Regions from separate parts of the Homo sapiens genome. Here region 2 is linked to region 1. A link means that fine-mapping ties the variant in region 1 to the expression of a gene that starts in the linked region. Tissue or cell type: tibial artery. Region 1 holds a variant in brackets; the other region holds the start of a gene. All regions are shown on one strand. Distances are from middle to middle.

Region 1 (8,000 bases):
CCGAGGCGAGTTGTGTGAGTGTACTGAGGTGGAGTGAGTGTACTGAGGCGGGGTGTGTGTGTACCAAGGTGGTGTGTGTGAATGCACCGAGGTGGTGTGACTGTACCAAGGCAGTTTGTGTGAGTGTACCGAGGCGGGTTGTGTGAGTGTACCGAGGCGATGTGAATGTACCAAGGTGGTGTGAGTGTACTGAGGTGGTGTGTGTGAGTGTACCGAGGCAGTGTGTGTGAGTGTACCAAGTCGGGGTGAATGTACCGAGGTGGGGTGTGTGAGTGTAACAAGGTGGAGTGAGTGTACCGAGGCAGTTGAGTGTACCGAGGCAAGTTGTGTGTGTGTACCGAGGCAGGGTGTGTGAGTGTATTGAGCTGGGGTGTGTGAGTGTACCTAGGCAGGTTGTGTGAGTGTACTGAGGCGGGTTTAAGTGTACCAAGGCAGTGTGTGTGTAACGAGGCGGGGTGTGTGAGTGTATCGAGGCAGGGTGAGTGTACCAAGGCGAGTTGAGTGTACCGAGGCGGTGTGAGTGTAACGAGGCAGAGTGTGTGAGTGTACCGAGGCGGTGTGAATGTACTGAGGCAAGGTGTGTGAGTGTACCAAGGCGGGGTGTGTGAGTGTACCAAGGCAGGGTGTGTGAGTGTACCAAGGCAGGGTGTGGCTTACTGTGTATGCTCATGCCTTTATGTGCCCACATCTGCCAGTGCCTGTGTCTGTGTGCACGTGCATCTCTGTGTCCCTGCATCAGTGTGTGCCTGGCCTCTCCGTGCCTGTGTCTGTGTGCACCTGTGTCCCTGTGTTCCCCCATCAGCATGCGCCTGGCTTACCTGTGCCTGTGTCTATGTGCACCTGCGTCTGTGTGTGCTCATGCCTGCGTGTGCCCACATCTGCCTGTGCTCATGTCTGGGTGCAGCTGCATTCCTGTGTCCCCGCATCAGCGTGTGCCTGGTCTTTCCGTGCCTGTGTCTGTGTGCACCTGCTTCTGTGTGTGCCTGTGCCTGTCAGTGTCCACATCTGCCGGTGCCTGTGCCTGTTGGTGCAGATACCAGTGTCTGCCCGCGTGTGTGAGTGAGCACACTAGCACAGCGGCTCCGAGCAGGGCTTTCTTTGGTTCCCTCAACCCAGCCTCCTTTCCCCACCCCATCCCTGGGATGTGGCTGGTGCTAAGGTCCTGCTGGCCCTGCCGTGAGGGAGCCCCCGTGCCACACTAGGGTTCCATGCACACTGGCTCCCAGCAGCCAGTCCTCGGATGCCCCTGGGAAAATCCAAATGGGCCTGAGGAGGGGCAGGAAGCCCGTGCGTGGTGGTGGTGGAGCCCGGGGAGGGCGGAGCCGGCAGGGGAGTCTGGGTCTGCATCAGCCAGGCGGCAGGAAGACAGGCGGGCGGGGTAGGCCCAGGGTCACCTCCAACTCCAGCCTCTCCTACCCACCCTGGCAGGGCCCTCACCTCACTCCGTCACCACGGGGTAGCTGCTCCATGGACTGTGTGGCTCAGGCTTCTCAGGACAGGGAAAGAGCCCTTCTCTGGTGTCCCACAGGCCAGGGTTTGAATCCCACCCTGCCTCCCTAGCTGAGCCCCAGCACCATGACAGTGGGCCTCATGAGGGCAGCTGTAGAGAGTGCTCTGCTCCCCACGTCGGTCTCACCAGGAGGTAGGGCAGCCACTCAGTCCCTGTTTCAGGACTGGCCTGACAGAGCTCACCCCACGGAGCCGTTCCCACACCACCCTTTCCTGGTGTGTGCGAGCTGGGGAGGAAGGCCTAGAATGCCGGGGGAGGCGCCAGGAGCATCAGGAAAGGCCCTAGTCCTCACTCACCATTGACCACTGTGCGTCTAACATGCTCCAGCTAAGGAGATGCAGTTCTTGCTCTCGCTGAGCTAACCTCGCAGAGGAGACGGGAAAAAACCCAGACAGTTATGTTGTAATAGGCCCTAAGAGGTGAGATATTGAAGAATAAATGGGAGTTTGCAAAGGGGATCGGGGATGGCTTCCAAGCTGTTTGGAGAGCGGGCAGCCAGTGCCTGGGGCACTGTGTAAACGGCTTGCGCAAAGGCCCTGAGGCAGTGAAGAGCTGGACTCCCTCCTTCCAGAAACTTAAAGAAGGCCAGTGGTGCCAGGGCACAGTGAGATGGGCAGGAGCAGGAGGGAGAGGCAGGCAGGGCCCACTCGAGTGGGGCTGAGGCATCGAGCTGGGTGAGGCAGCGGGGAGCTTGTCATGGCCTAAGCGCACAGCGAAGCCAGGGGTGCACTTGGCAGGGAGCACTTTTATCCTGAGGAGGTGACATTGGCTGCTGCGTGGAGGAAGGTGAGAGAGGAGGACGTGAGAGCACTGTGGGATCGGTAGTAGAGTGGAGGAGGAGAGAGGGAGAGAGAGAGTGGGGGGAGTGGGGGGAGTGCTGGAGCATCAAGGCTGCTGGGAAGCCAGCCATGCTGAGACCCATGTGGGCCTGTGGGTCTGTCCCTGCTTTACCACAGCACTGTGTCCCTGACCCGCAGGCATCATGCTGGGCCGCATGGGTGACAGCGGGGCCCCCCTGGTCAGCTTCTGCCAGTGCCTCAATGAGTCGGTCATGAAGATCGTGGCGGTGGCTGTGTGGTAAGCCTCCTCATTTACCCACCTCACCCCGGCCAGCCCTGGGTGGATGGAGGGAAGACAAGACCCCACCCTCTTCTCCCGTAAAGTGAGCAGAAAGCTGTGCCCAGGCTCAGCCCTGGGCCGGGGCCTCCGGAGCTACATGTGTTTCCATGGGTCCCCCAGCCCCAGCCAGGCCTGGCTCCGGCCCTGGGCCTGCCCCTTCCAGCCTGGTCTAAGAGCTCTGCCCGGCTCTGCTGCTCTCCTGGGCTCAGTTTCTCCATCACATGGAGCCTTATCAGCTCAGCTTTTGGAGAAAGGAAAGCTGGCGGTAAGGACTAGCCCACAGTTCAGAGTCCTCGGCCCACAGTTCAGAGTCCAGGAGCTCAGTGGGGAACGCAGAGGGAGGGCTGCCCAGGCGCACTGTGTAGACTCTGGCGTTGTTGGGCCTGAAATGGGGGCCTCCTGAAGGCAGGGCGGGGGAAGGAGTGGCAGAGGTTGTCTGGAGCTGGGGCGGTGGAAGTAACGGTATGAAGGACGCCATGTGCTGAGCCTGGGCCGGGCACCTTGGCAGTCTCGCTCTGTCCTCGCAGGAGCCCCAGGAAGCTCAGGGGGAAGGCCGCGCAGCGATGCGGGGCTGGGGCCGGGGTGTGTCTGCCTGCCTGGTTCCTGAGCCTGGCTGCCCCGCCGCCCCCAGGTATTTCCCCTTCGGCATTGTGTTCCTCATTGCGGGTAAGATCCTGGAGATGGACGACCCCAGGGCCGTCGGCAAGAAGCTGGGCTTCTACTCAGTCACCGTGGTGTGCGGGCTGGTGCTCCACGGGCTCTTTATCCTGCCCCTGCTCTACTTCTTCATCACCAAGAAGAATCCCATCGTCTTCATCCGTGGCATCCTGCAGGCTCTGCTCATCGCGCTGGCCACCTCCTCCAGGTAGCCCCGGGGACGGGCAGGACGGTGGGGAGCTGGGAGGGGCTGAGCCCTGTCCGTCTGTCCAGCCATCATTGGTTCATAGCCACAGAACCACCAAAACGCCAGTGTGGCCCACCTCACAAATGCGGGGACGGCTGGTGCTGGGGTAACAAGACTGACGTGGGGGACTTTTGGCCTTTGTCGAGGCCTCTCCTTCCCCCACGGCCCCAGTCCTCAAGCTCACTGAGTCCGCATGGGGGCGGCCTCGACGCGCCAGGGCAGACAGCACAGTAGAGTCAGTGGGAAATCACATTGGCAACGCACTGCTGCTGCCTTTTGCCCCACAAGGTGCTTCTCCTGGAGTCGGGCCCTGTGTTGCTCTAGGAGCTCGGCCTGTCCACTGCCGCTGGGATGTCCTGGCTGGGTGCCCTGTCACAACCTTGGCAGTGTCCCTAGACCTCAGGGACTTGAGCCATGGCTCTGTCACTCACTCGCTGTGCCTGGGCATTGCTTTCCTCATGCACAGACTGGGGGAGACTCCAGCTTCCAGCTCACAGGGTTGCAGTGGAGGTCGAGCCCCTCCTTGCCAGGCTGGGCCAGGTGAACCAGCACTTGGCCTTAAGGATCCCAAACCTCAGCCCAGTGCAGAGACCTCAGGAATTTAGAGTTGTGCAAACCATGTCGTTGGTGGAGGGGGCAGGAAGGAAGTGGTCCCTTATGGAGCATCTAGTGCTGTGAAGGCAGTTTGGCTCTCCCCATGGC[A/G]AGTGTCTGAGCTCCACATTAAGGGAGTCGCAGGAACTTAAGCCACATCTTTCTGGCACTGAAGGCCTCACTCTTCCCTCTAGCCCTCACTTGGGTCTCAGTTTTTCCATCTGTAAAATGCCCTGCAGGCCTCTGTACCCAGCAGTCATATGACACCCACCCCTGGCAGCAGATGCACCTCCTGCAGGATTCAGGAGCAGACCCCAGTGAAGAAAAGCCCAGGAGCCATTGCCAGGAACACCCTCCCGCAGATAGGGGGTCAGAGGGCAGGACAAAGCCCCAAACATGCCAGCTCCCATGCCAGGGGCCAAGCCAGCCAGAGCCAGCAGCCCCCTGGCCATCTCCTGCCAGCAGGAACCGCAGCCTCAAGCCCAGCAGGTCTGGAGCTCCTGAGAGGCTCTGGCGAGTAGAACCGGCCTTCCAGGCAGAGGCCCGGGGGAGAGGAAGACACAGGGGCCACACCGGCCTGTTTTAGTCCCAGCACTGCCACTGGGAACTCTCATGACAAACATAGTAATAATAATAGTCATGGTCACCATTGACTGAGTGGGTACAATGGGCCAGGTGCTGTCCAAGCCCGTAGTCGTTTAATCCTCCTAGTAGCTCTGTGACCCAGGTCTTTTTGGGACAAAGATGCTGAGGCACAGGGTTCAGGAACTTGCCAGGACCACTTGACAGGAGGCTGGAATCTAAGCCCAGACAGCCTGGCCCAGGGCCCTGCTGCTCAGACCTCCATATCCCTCGGCACAGCAGTGTGACATGGGTCAGCCCCGCCCTCTGGGCGTCAGCTTCCTCATCTGTAAAATGCACCCAAACACCTCCCTCATAGGAAGAACCAAGTGAGAGCACTGCAGTGCCCGCGGTCCTTACCTCCTGCCGGAGCAGCGCTGCAGAGGCACAAACACTCCTGGCGGGGTGGCTGCCTGGGGAGGGGTGAGCTTCCCGACAGAGGCCCCAGCCATCCTGGAGGAGGGTGCTGGGCAGACACCGGCCCCTCTAACCGTAGCTCAGCCACACTGCCCATCACCTTCAAGTGCCTGCTGGAGAACAACCACATCGACCGGCGCATCGCTCGCTTCGTGCTGCCCGTGGGTGCCACCATCAACATGGACGGCACTGCGCTCTACGAGGCTGTGGCCGCCATCTTCATCGCCCAGGTCAACAACTACGAGCTGGACTTTGGCCAGATCATCACCATCAGGTGCACCCTGACACTGCACCTGGGTGGATGGGGCGGGGGCTGGGGGCCTTGGGGATTCCCAGGCTCCCAGACTTGAGGGGTATCTGAAGCGAGCGAGCCTGGGCTCGGAGCACAGCAGGCAGAGGGCCAGGGCTGGGAGCTCCGAGCCTGGAGGACAGCCCGGGAGGGAGGGCATTGCTGGTGGCCACAGGGCGAGCGGAGGCCAGGGACAGGACTCAGGACCTTGGAGAGGCCGCCCGTGTGGCAGGAGCCAACGAAGGGGTGCTGGGATGCGGCTGAGGCTGACGGAGGCCTCACAGCCCAGCCAAGCACACAGGTCTGACCCTGGAGGCCAGGCCCCAGAGGCAGGCAGGCAGAGCCATGTGGTGGTCAGTCAGAGTCCCTGGGCAGCCCCATAGCAATATAGCTTCCTGGAACCCACAGAGGCACAGCTCCAGACACAGGTGTTTGCACAGTTCCCAGGGATTCTCCTGAGGCCAGGAATGGGGGTCCATGGGGCTTCAGGACTGTGAGGAGGGACTTGACCCCGAGAGCTCCCTGGTGTGGCATTCCTACCCACCCCCCGCACCAAATGGCTGTCCCAGAGGCCCTGACACTCAACCTCTTCCTTGGAGCCAGACCCTGACAATGCACCCTGCCCCTCCTGCTGCTCCTCTTCCCCTTCCCACCCCCTGCAGTATCACAGCCACTGCAGCCAGCATTGGGGCAGCTGGCATCCCCCAGGCCGGCCTCGTCACCATGGTCATCGTGCTCACCTCCGTGGGACTGCCCACCGATGACATCACCCTCATCATTGCCGTTGACTGGGCTCTGTGAGTGGACTTTGCCTCTAGCTCTAGCCCTCTGGGAGGGGCTGACTTCAGGGTCAGCAGGGATCAGGGTGAGCGGCTGAGTCCCTTCCCCAGGGTAGAAGGCTGGGGACTGCCCCGCTTGGCACTGTGGGAGTGCCCTACTCATTAGCACAGGCCTGGCTGCATAATTTGTGGGGTCCAGTGTTCAAAAATGAAAATGTGGAACCCAGTCCAAAAACTGTAAAGGCCAGGCATGATGACTCACGCCTATATGTCCCAGAACTTTGAGAGGCCATGGCAGGAGCATTCCTTGAGCCCAGGAATTCCAGAGCCCAGCCTGGGCAACACAGTAAAATCCCCATCTCTACTAAAAATTAGAAAAGAAAAAATTAGCTGGGACTGGTGACATGTGCCTGTAATCCCAGCTATTCAGGTGGCTGAGGCACGAGAATTACCTGAACCTGGGAGATGGAGGTTTCAGTAAGCCGAGATGGCGCCACTGCACTCCAGCCTGAGTGACAGAGCAAGACTCTGTCTCAAAAAACAAACAAACAAACAAACAAAAAACAAACCTATAAAGAATTTCAAGACAGAAACAGCAGAGGATTAAACCAAACCTAACCCTTCTAAGCATGGGGACCTGTGGAACCCACAGCTGCATGCCAAGAAGCTGCTTCAATGATGCCAAAGGGTGGGCTTGGGAGGAGCCAGGAAGCCATCTGGCTGCAGGCTTTGCATGACAGCTGGTCACCGGCCGTGCTGTACTGTGCTGGGTTGAGCACTGCCCTCTTCCAGCTCCCCTTCAAGTGCCCACCACTCACCCCCAACCTTGGCTCACCAGGGACCGTTTCCGCACCATGATTAACGTGCTGGGTGATGCGCTGGCAGCGGGGATCATGGCCCATATATGTCGGAAGGATTTTGCCCGGGACACAGGCACCGAGGTGAGAGCAGTGAGATCCAGAGGCTGCCAGGAGGGTGGAGCCACGCAGGGTGGGCAGGGCACCAGATCTTCCACCAACCAGCTCGGCAGCCTCCAGCCAATCCCTCCCTCCATGCCTCTGGGCCTCGGTCTCCTCATCCGTTACAGAATGACTGATTCCTCTAACATCTATTTATTGAGCACCCGCTGTGGCTGGCGCTGATATAGACACAGGAGGAACAGTAGAACAAGATATGATAAAATTCCCCGCCCTCGTGTCGGGATGGTCTGTCCAGTTTAGCCAACATGTGAGCATTTGTAGGTCTGTGCAGGCTGTGTGGGCTTCAGGCTCCTTCTACAGGCAAATGGAGAAGGCTGTCCCCACATCATGGGGAAGAAGCTGAGGTCAGGCAGGGGATCCACCAATTCCCCAGATGGACCCTGTGGATTAAGTCCCCTCCTCTACTAAGCCAGCTCCAGTGGGAGGCAGGACGCTTGGGAACAGGAGCCCAGGGAGGCCGTGACCTGCCGAGGTCACACAGCGTGTCTGCAGGAAAATCCATCTTGTGGTTCCTAGCCCTGAGCTCATTCTGCCCCACTGGCCCTCAGTCCTCCCTCGTATCTAACCTTGGTCCCTCCTGCTGCTACAAAGACCTGTTTCCCTTCACCAGAAACTGCTGCCCTGCGAGACCAAGCCAGTGAGCCTCCAGGAGATCGTGGCAGCCCAGCAGAATGGCTGTGTGAAGAGTGTAGCCGAGGCCTCCGAGCTCACCCTGGGCCCCACCTGCCCCCACCACGTCCCCGTTCAAGTGGAGCAGGATGAGGAGCTGCCCGCTGCGAGTCTGAACCAC
Region 2 (8,196 bases), 50 kb before region 1:
ACACCCAGCTGGATCAGCTGCATTTGTTGCCCACAGAAAACCTTCCCGGAAGGGCCCAGCTTCCAGCGAGCTGGGAAGACGTGTCAGGGAGATTAAGGCGCCTCTGGTATGTCTCTGGAAAGCAGCCAACATACCCCGAGCTGTCGTCACGACAGACCCAGATGGGAGCTCACCCGGCCAGACCTAAACTCATTTTGACACATGGTGGAAGGTGTAAGGCCCCAGCCCCGATGGCCACTGCAGCCCACCGATGCACTGCTAGCCCTGGGAGGCCCTGCTGTCACGCCTCCGGCCTAAATCAGACTGTCGTCTCCCCTCTCCCTTGACCAGCACCCCCTTCCCTGGCTTATTGAGGCCTCTGCCTAAACCACGTCTCCTCTGGGAAGCCTTCCTATCCCCGCCTTCCCAGGCTGGGTTGGCCCTGCCTGTAGCCCTGGCGAATCATTAATCATTAATCATTAGCAAATAAGTCAACCCCTGCTGCTCTCCCCACAGCATAACCCAAGCAGAGGGCCCGGTGAAGAACAGCTCAACTGCACACCTGCTTCTGCAGGGTGAGGCAGCTGCACCTGTGACTTGGCGTTCATTTTCGCCAACACCATGTCTCTTCTTTGCCATAGCATCTCAGTCTGTCCAGCTCAAGCCTCCCCAGAAGCATCTCTGAGGCCGCCTGCTGCCCATTATACAACACCTTGCTCCTCAGGCTATCCCTAGCACCCCGCTGCCCCTGCCAATATACCCTCCAACTTTGAGGATTCTCCATTGAGGTGATTTCAAATGACATGGTAACAAACAGAGATTTGATTTTATTTTCATAGATTCTTATTTCCTTGTCAGAGCCACTTAAAAGGGAGCTAGGTGAATCCCCAGCTGGTGACTGTGAAGGGCCTGAGTTAGAGTGAGAAAAAGAGAAGGTATTGTATCTAGGGTAATCAGGGAAGGCTTCGAAGAAGAGGGGGATTTAACCTGTAACTTTCGTGACAAGGAAGGACATTCTAGGCCAAGGAAATAGCACAGGCAAAGGTGCAGAAGCCTGAGACAGGATGCAGCGTTCCAGGACCCTGCAGTGGTTTGGTGTCATAGGAGCTGGAGGGGTGACGGAAGGAGTAGGAGGTAATGCTGAAAGGGTGAGGAAAAGGGTGAAAGTGCCTTGCAGGGGAGCATAGACTCGATGCTGCAGACCGGGGTTTCCCAGGCGTGTTCTCCAAACACCAGGCCCAGGGAGTTCTCTGCTCCAGAGGAGGGGTGGGATTCTCTATTCTCCACTTGGTGACTTCCTCCGACACAGCCGCTACTGTAAAGACTTTCATAGTAACTACCTGGGGCTATCTGCAAGGCACTGGGCCACGCTCTAACCATGGCGCATGCAGCACTGTATGACCCACATCAAAACCCTATGATCTAGGTACTGTTGCATTATCCCCATTTTACAGGGAAGTTAAGAAATGTTCCCAAGGTCACACAGCTGGTTGAAGGTAGAGCTGAGGTTTTAACTCTAGCAGTCTGACTTTGAGCTGTCTCAGAGGAAATAACGTGCTTAACTTTTTGTTTCGTCCAGCATTTCCCAAACTTCCTTTTGATGTAATTATGGAAAAATTGTCTTGCACATCTAGTGACATTGTAAAAGGCAGTTGATTCTTTGTCAATGGTGAACTATTATAGGGTTCTGACCCAGGAGACTTGATTTGATTTGCAAATATTCTTAGTAAACTCATTATCAGTCACTTACACTTTAGTGTGAATTAGTCCGTTCTTGGGGTCTCTCCACTTTCTTATAAGCTTCCTGAAGGCAGGGCAGGTACTGTCTGATTCACTGTTGTGTTTCTAGTACCCAGGGGGTGTGGCACACTAAATGGTGCTATAAGAACATTTGCTAGAGTGAGTTGAAATTCTCCTGTTGAAGACCGTAGGAACAGTGGAAAGAATGGCTGTAGTCTGGTAGGCAGGTAGTGGTAGGCTCAGCCTGTGGGAGAGAGGAGTCAGTGGTGGCTATAGGGCACGTCCTGGGAATGGGAGTCATGGAGCTGTGGTAGAAAGCAAGACTCACCTATATCATGGCACAGCTAAAGGCCAGGTCTGGGCTGGGTGTGGTGGCTCATGCCTGCAGTCCCAACACGTTAGGAGGCCAAGATGGGAGGATTGTTTGAGCCCAGGAGTTGATCAAAACCCAAATCCAAATACCTACTTAGCATATTTTCTCTTCTGGGAAGTAACTAACCACCTGATTATTTGGAAAATGAGGCATTTGTTGGAGTTGAAGGTGTAGCAAGAAACTTTTGGTTTTAAGAGTCAAAGTCAGAGGAAAAAAAACTCTCAGACTTGTATTCACCCCCACCCCCCACCCCAAGCTACTGCAAAGAGCAGGGGCTTTGGAAGATTGGTTTGTTGAAATGAAGTTCCTTTGACAAAGGTACCTGGGCCCATTTCTCTCATTCTAAAAAGGACAAGACTGATACCCAGAGACGGCAAGGTCACAGAGCTGATTAAATTGGGATCAGAATCTTCTCAGTCAGGAGCTCTGTCCATGGCTTCAGAGCCTGTGCCCCAGTCCCCTCTCCCCACCTCTCCCCTATGCCCCACTTGGCCCGTCCTCTTCATCCTCTGCCCCTGTCTCCTATGTCAGGAGGAGGAAGCCCCTGTGTGCACCCCACCCTTTACCTCCCACCCTCACTGCAGACTGCACTTCCCATTCCCTGCTGCCTGCTGCCTGACTGCTCCTAATGAGATTACAGATCTCTGGTGAAATAGACGAGGGTTAATTCCCCCAGGCTTTACAGGGCAGGGCAGGCCAGGCCACAAGAAATAGCAAAAAGACACCTATTCTCCAAAGCACTAAGTGTGATAATGACCCTAAGAGTCCGTTCCCCTGTTCAGCACACCAGGGTTCACACTGCGTTTCCAAATACCCTCTGGGTGGAATTTTGTACCAGCCCTAACAAAGTAGATGCTGTTATCATCTCTATTTTACAGATGGAGAAACTGAGGCACAGTGAGATGAAATGCTTGTCTGAGGTCACACAGCTAGTAAGTGGCAGAGCTGGGACCCGAATGTGGGTCTCTTGGGCTCTGTCATCTTTAAAAAATAATAGGCCCAGAGAGCCTGCAGGGTGCCCAGCACCAGGCTTGAAACAGCCCTGAAGCATCTACGTCCCATTTCCCGGTGAGTGGCACAGCCCACCTTTGAACTCAGGTCCCCTGGACTCGAATCTACATTCCCCACAATACTGCCAAGCACCCTTGAACCTATCTGCCTGTTCATGTGGTGGAAACAGACTGGCCTAGCCCTGACTTCTGACCTCTGTGACCATGGCCAAGGGACTGGCTTCTGGGGTCTCAGCCTCCCTTTCTGAAAAATGAAGGTGGGAACCCTGGGATCTTTGGGACAATTCCCTATGATTGGCATAGCTAAGGCAGCCAGCACAGGCCTGGCCCGCAGCACATGCACCCACCCACCTCAGTTTCTTTATCTGTAAAATGGTGATATTAATAGTACTTATTTCTTGGGATTGGTGTTAGGATTAAATATGCCAGTACATGTAACACTCTTCTAGAATGGCACCTGGTGCATAGTAAATGCTTAATTAATGTTGAGGGAAACTGATATCTTACTGTCTTGTTTTTGATTCTTTCTGGAAGGAAGCAGGGGTAAAGATCAAACCAACCAAGCAAATGTTCCTCTTGTTCCTTCCAGTACCTGGTCCACTCAACTGTTTAAGAGGAACGCTTGGCTTTGAGGCCTGAACTCCTAGACCACGTGGTCTGCTCTAATTTCCCAGGCCCTAATCTGCTCCCAGCTCCTAATGATGCAGCTGGTAATAGGATTGTGGCTTCCCTCTAAGGCGGCCACACGGGCATGGCCGTGGGGCTGGCGACTGGTGTTTAGCAACTCCGACCACCTGCCTGCTGAGGGGCTAGAGCCCTCAGCCCAGACCCTGTGCCCCCGGCCGGGCTCTCATGCGTGGAATGGTGCTGTGCCCCTTGCCAGCAGGCCAGGCTCACCATGGTGCCGCATGCCATCTTGGCACGGGGGAGGGACGTGTGCAGGCGGAATGGACTCCTCATCCTGTCTGTGCTGTCTGTCATCGTGGGCTGCCTCCTCGGCTTCTTCTTGAGGACCCGGCGCCTCTCACCACAGGTCAGCCACCCAGAGCATCTCGGGACCCCTGTCCAGGAGGGGCGTGTGGGCCTGAGGGATCTGGGGTCCCGTTCTAGCATCACAGCTCCCTGGTGCCATGACAGTGTGTGAATCCCTCTGCCTCTCTGGGTCCTGGTTTTCTCATCTGTAACATGGGTGTGATAAACACTTTGCAGGACTAGAGGGAAGAACCAGTGATGTGGCTGGGGAGTGATTACAAACCCAGCACCATCAGGTGAGGAGAGGCGAGGGTGCCTCATGATGACAAACACAGGGCCAAGAGCTGTGGCGGGGAAAGAGGGGGGTCTTGTGTGAGTTCAAACAGGCACCAGAGAACACCTCCTAAAGGCTGCTCAAATGACAAGAGATCCAGGAAGCGTGCTCTAGGCAGAGGTGACAGCAGATGCCAGGTGCAGCGGCCGGAGCGCAGAGGCCAGCAGGCCCATAGGTCCCATCGCCACACGTGGGCTTGCGGCAACCATGAGATGCTTTTGGGCAGAAGAGCGACAGGCCAGTTTGGAGCTTGGGAGACCCCTCAGGTGCTGAGTGGAGAGGGGGTGATTCTGGGGCAGGCAGGGGGCCGAGAAGGGGCAGCCTGGGGGAGATGCGGCAGTGCAGACAAAAGGGACAGACGTGAGAACTGTTTTCAAAAGGGGGAGCTTCAGGATGTGGGGGCCGATTGGATGTGGGCTGGGGGACAGGAAGGGGAGCCAGGCCCCGGGTTTCCAGCCTGTGTAACTGCCATGAAGAAGCTGCGTTTCCTGGGAAAGAGCCCCTTTCCCTGTCAGCCCCCATCTCCTACAGGAGAGGGAGGGACATTCCCATGGTGTTAAGGACAAAATCATTCTGCCACTAGTTAAACTGGTAAGGAAGGCTCTATTCAGGACTATTGTGGTAGGGGGGTAGTTATCAAGACCTCCTGGGGAGAGAGATGGGACCCAACCACAAATACAACAAAGATGGCTGGAGATTTATAGCCAGCGAGCAGAGGGAGGGGGTCGGGGACAGAAAATGACTACAGGAGACATCAGGGTAGGGGGATTCTTGTTGAAGGCAGGCCAGGGTGATCAGACATTGATCTGGGATGAGGAATTTGATCCAGTATCAGGATGCTGGAGGGTGAGGGATCCTCACTAAACTGACTTGGCAGGACTTTTGCTACAGCTGGACTATGCAGGCTGAAGACAAGGCCCAAGGACAAAGCCCAGTGGAAAAGAGGGCTCAGAGGAGCCTGTCTAAAGTGTGGTCAAGGAGAGAGGCTTTGTCAATGGGCTCCTGGAAGAGTCCCTATTCCCAGAAAGTCCTCTTCCCGCAGCTCACTAATGTCTAATGCCATCTCTACAACTGGGGTCAGGCATTAGACTTTGTCTTCCATTAAAAGGAAAACACCCACTCCTGGAGAACTGAGCCACGACTATAGTGACCCTGTTAAGCCTCGAGCAGTTATTTAGGAAGAAGCATGGACTCTGGAGGCAGAGAAACCCTGAACTTTGACTCTGCTAGCAAATGGCTAGGCAATATCCTCTCTCCTCCCTGGGCCTCAGTTTCCTTGTCTGTAAAATGGGATGTGGGGCAGTATATGTCTACTAGAATTATTATGAGGAATAAACCAAGGATTCATCAATGCCCAGCATACAGTAGGTGCTTACTACGTGTTACTTCCCCCTCCCTCCCTTATGTACCTGTTAAAGTCCTATCTACATCAGGAACCATCTCATCATCCATAGCTGATGAAAGTAACTGTAACCCCGCTGCTGGCTGCCTGGCTTCAGAGCTGGTTATATGGGTGTCTCTTTCTCCCACCAAGCTGCATATTGCTGAACAACATATGGGTTTGTTTTTTTTTTTAACCAAAACGTGAGCCTAGCCCTGTGTCAGGCACAGAGAGAACGCTCAACTATCTGCTGCATTAAACTGGCAATGGAACAAAAAAATCTGCAATCTGTTCTCTTTAATTTTCCTCAGCAACAAAAATATATCTCCTGCAGGAAGATTATTTTGTGAAAACAAATTGGAATGCCTATTATTAAAAGCCAAACTCATCTGGGGCCTACTTTGCCAAAGCTGCCTTTCCCATCTGTTTGGAAATGCAAATGTATTCCAGTCTGGATTAACCTGCCAGATAAATTGAAGGAAGGATGTAGAGGCTTAGAACAATTATTTGGCAGAAACTGGCTTTCTCAGCATCTTACTTTGAAATCTGGGATTTCTCTGTTTGATCTCTTTGCCTGTGACTCAGAAACTAAACACTTCTTGTTTTGTAAGCTTATGCAACAGGCAAAAATCATAAACAATATGGAAAATGGTAGAATGTTCTATTTGTGAAAAAGAACTTTTATCCTTGATAAAATCACAGGATTTTATCTTGGTGTATGAGTGTCTCATTTAAAAATACTGAGCATTTTGAGACTTCCAGTTAAACCATGGTGAATCACAGGTGTATCCATTTTTTTCCCTCCTTCCTAGAATTCCACTAACATTTTAGTAATGGGATTTTTAAAAGGTAAAACCACCAAGAATAAAGAGAATATAAAAGGAGACAGTTGAGAAAAAGAAATAGAGAGGCTACAACAAATTAGATAATATGGAGGTGGGTGGAGCTGATGACCTCATTCACAGAAAGCTGGAATCTTAGTCTGTGGAAGTTGATACCAAGTCAGTTTGTCTTGCAGACTCCAGAACGTAACAGAGCAAGATGCTGCACTAGGCAGGGTGAGGCTGGGGTTGAAAGCCTGGGCATGGTTTGGAGTTTTGTAACCAGAGCAGTTAGACCCCTAGGGACCTTCCAATTCAGTTGGGGGACTCATCCACCCATCTCCACCCACTGCCTGCCCCAAGGAACCAGAGAAGCTGGACTTGAGGGTATTGGGCCACCCCTGTGTGTGTTGGGGAGAGGGCCATGCTGAGGCACCTACTTCAAACTAATTAACAGACATCCTTGTCTGAGTGGGGTCCCCAGCACGGTTTCAGATCGCTGTCAGCTGAGCTTAGGCACCATGTCATTCCTCAGCCAAAGGCAGGAAGAGACTTCTCTCACTGAGGCCTCAGAGAAAAGATCTCTAAATTCTGCTATAAAGGAGACTCCTCTACCATCCCACCCAGCCCCAGTGAAAAAGCCAGATCAGCACCTGTCACCCTGCCCTGAGGGCCGTCAGTTGACAAACCCTACTCATACATGCAGAAGTTTAGCGCTTCAAACTTACATACGAGCAGAAAGCCACGCCACCAGAAATGTGAGGAGGCTCCTAATGTGAAACAGAGTAAACGAAGAGAAAAGGGGGTCTCTAATGAGAGAAACAAAGAGAAAAGTGGGTCTCTAGTGAAGCAGAGACAAGGCGGGGAGGAGAAGGAAGCTTTGTAAATCTCCTCTTAAGCTTTCTGGAGCTGCGAGTGAAGATATAGTTACCGTACAACAGAGGGGATGTGAAAAGAAGGAACAATCAGAGAACAAGAAAGAATCTGGGGAAATTAAAAATAGAAGAACTAAGATAAAAATGTGAGTAGCTGCCCAACACATAGAAAGGATAAATACTCGAAGTGTTGGAGACCCTGAATACCCTGATTTGAACATTACACAGTGTATTTAACAATATACCAACTGTATCCCATAAATATGTACAAATATTATATATTAATATAAAAACTTTGGCTAGGCCTGGTGGCTCATGCCTGTAATCCTAGCACTTTGGGAGGCCAAGGCGGGTGGATTGCCTGACCCCAGGCATTCAGGGCCAGCCTGGGCAACATGGTGTGAGACCCCATCTCCAAAAAAAAAAAAAAAATTAATGTCAATAACTGGGATAAAGTTGTAGAAATCTCCCAGAAACTAGAACAAAAATAAATGAAAATAGAAAAAGAAAATATAAGAAAATTAGAATGTTCAATGTCCAGCTACCTAATGACACTTTTAGAGACAGCTAACAGAAGAAAAATAGAGGAGAAACAGTTTGCAGAGAATCTAAGCAGTTTCTCAGAAGTGAAAGGCAAGCATAGCACTGTCAATTTTGTTTACAAAAGAAAGAAAACCCCATACTATGGCCCATCACCATGAAATTACCAAA

What was found. PIP is the estimated chance that this variant, and not a neighbour inherited with it, causes the effect.
Region 2: it holds the start of SLC1A7, and the variant in region 1 is fine-mapped to the expression of SLC1A7 in tibial artery (GTEx, PIP 0.94).

Annotation. Positions count from the first base shown.
Region 1 is chr1:53,088,048-53,096,047 of GRCh38, reverse strand. It overlaps SLC1A7 (solute carrier family 1 member 7), which reads left to right. Exons shown (of 11, transcript NM_006671.6): 6 at 2,488-2,587; 7 at 3,261-3,494; 8 at 5,242-5,436; 9 at 6,114-6,248; 10 at 7,069-7,171; 11 at 7,821-8,000. Among named protein-coding and RNA genes, the nearest start is that of PODN, 30 kb to the right of the region's middle. RefSeq lists an enhancer at 625-1,162. The variant A/G (reference allele first, on the strand shown) is at 4,236.
Region 2 is chr1:53,138,254-53,146,449 of GRCh38, reverse strand. SLC1A7 (solute carrier family 1 member 7) reads left to right here and starts at 3,812. Exons shown (of 11, transcript NM_006671.6): 1 at 3,812-4,135. The coding sequence starts at 4,001.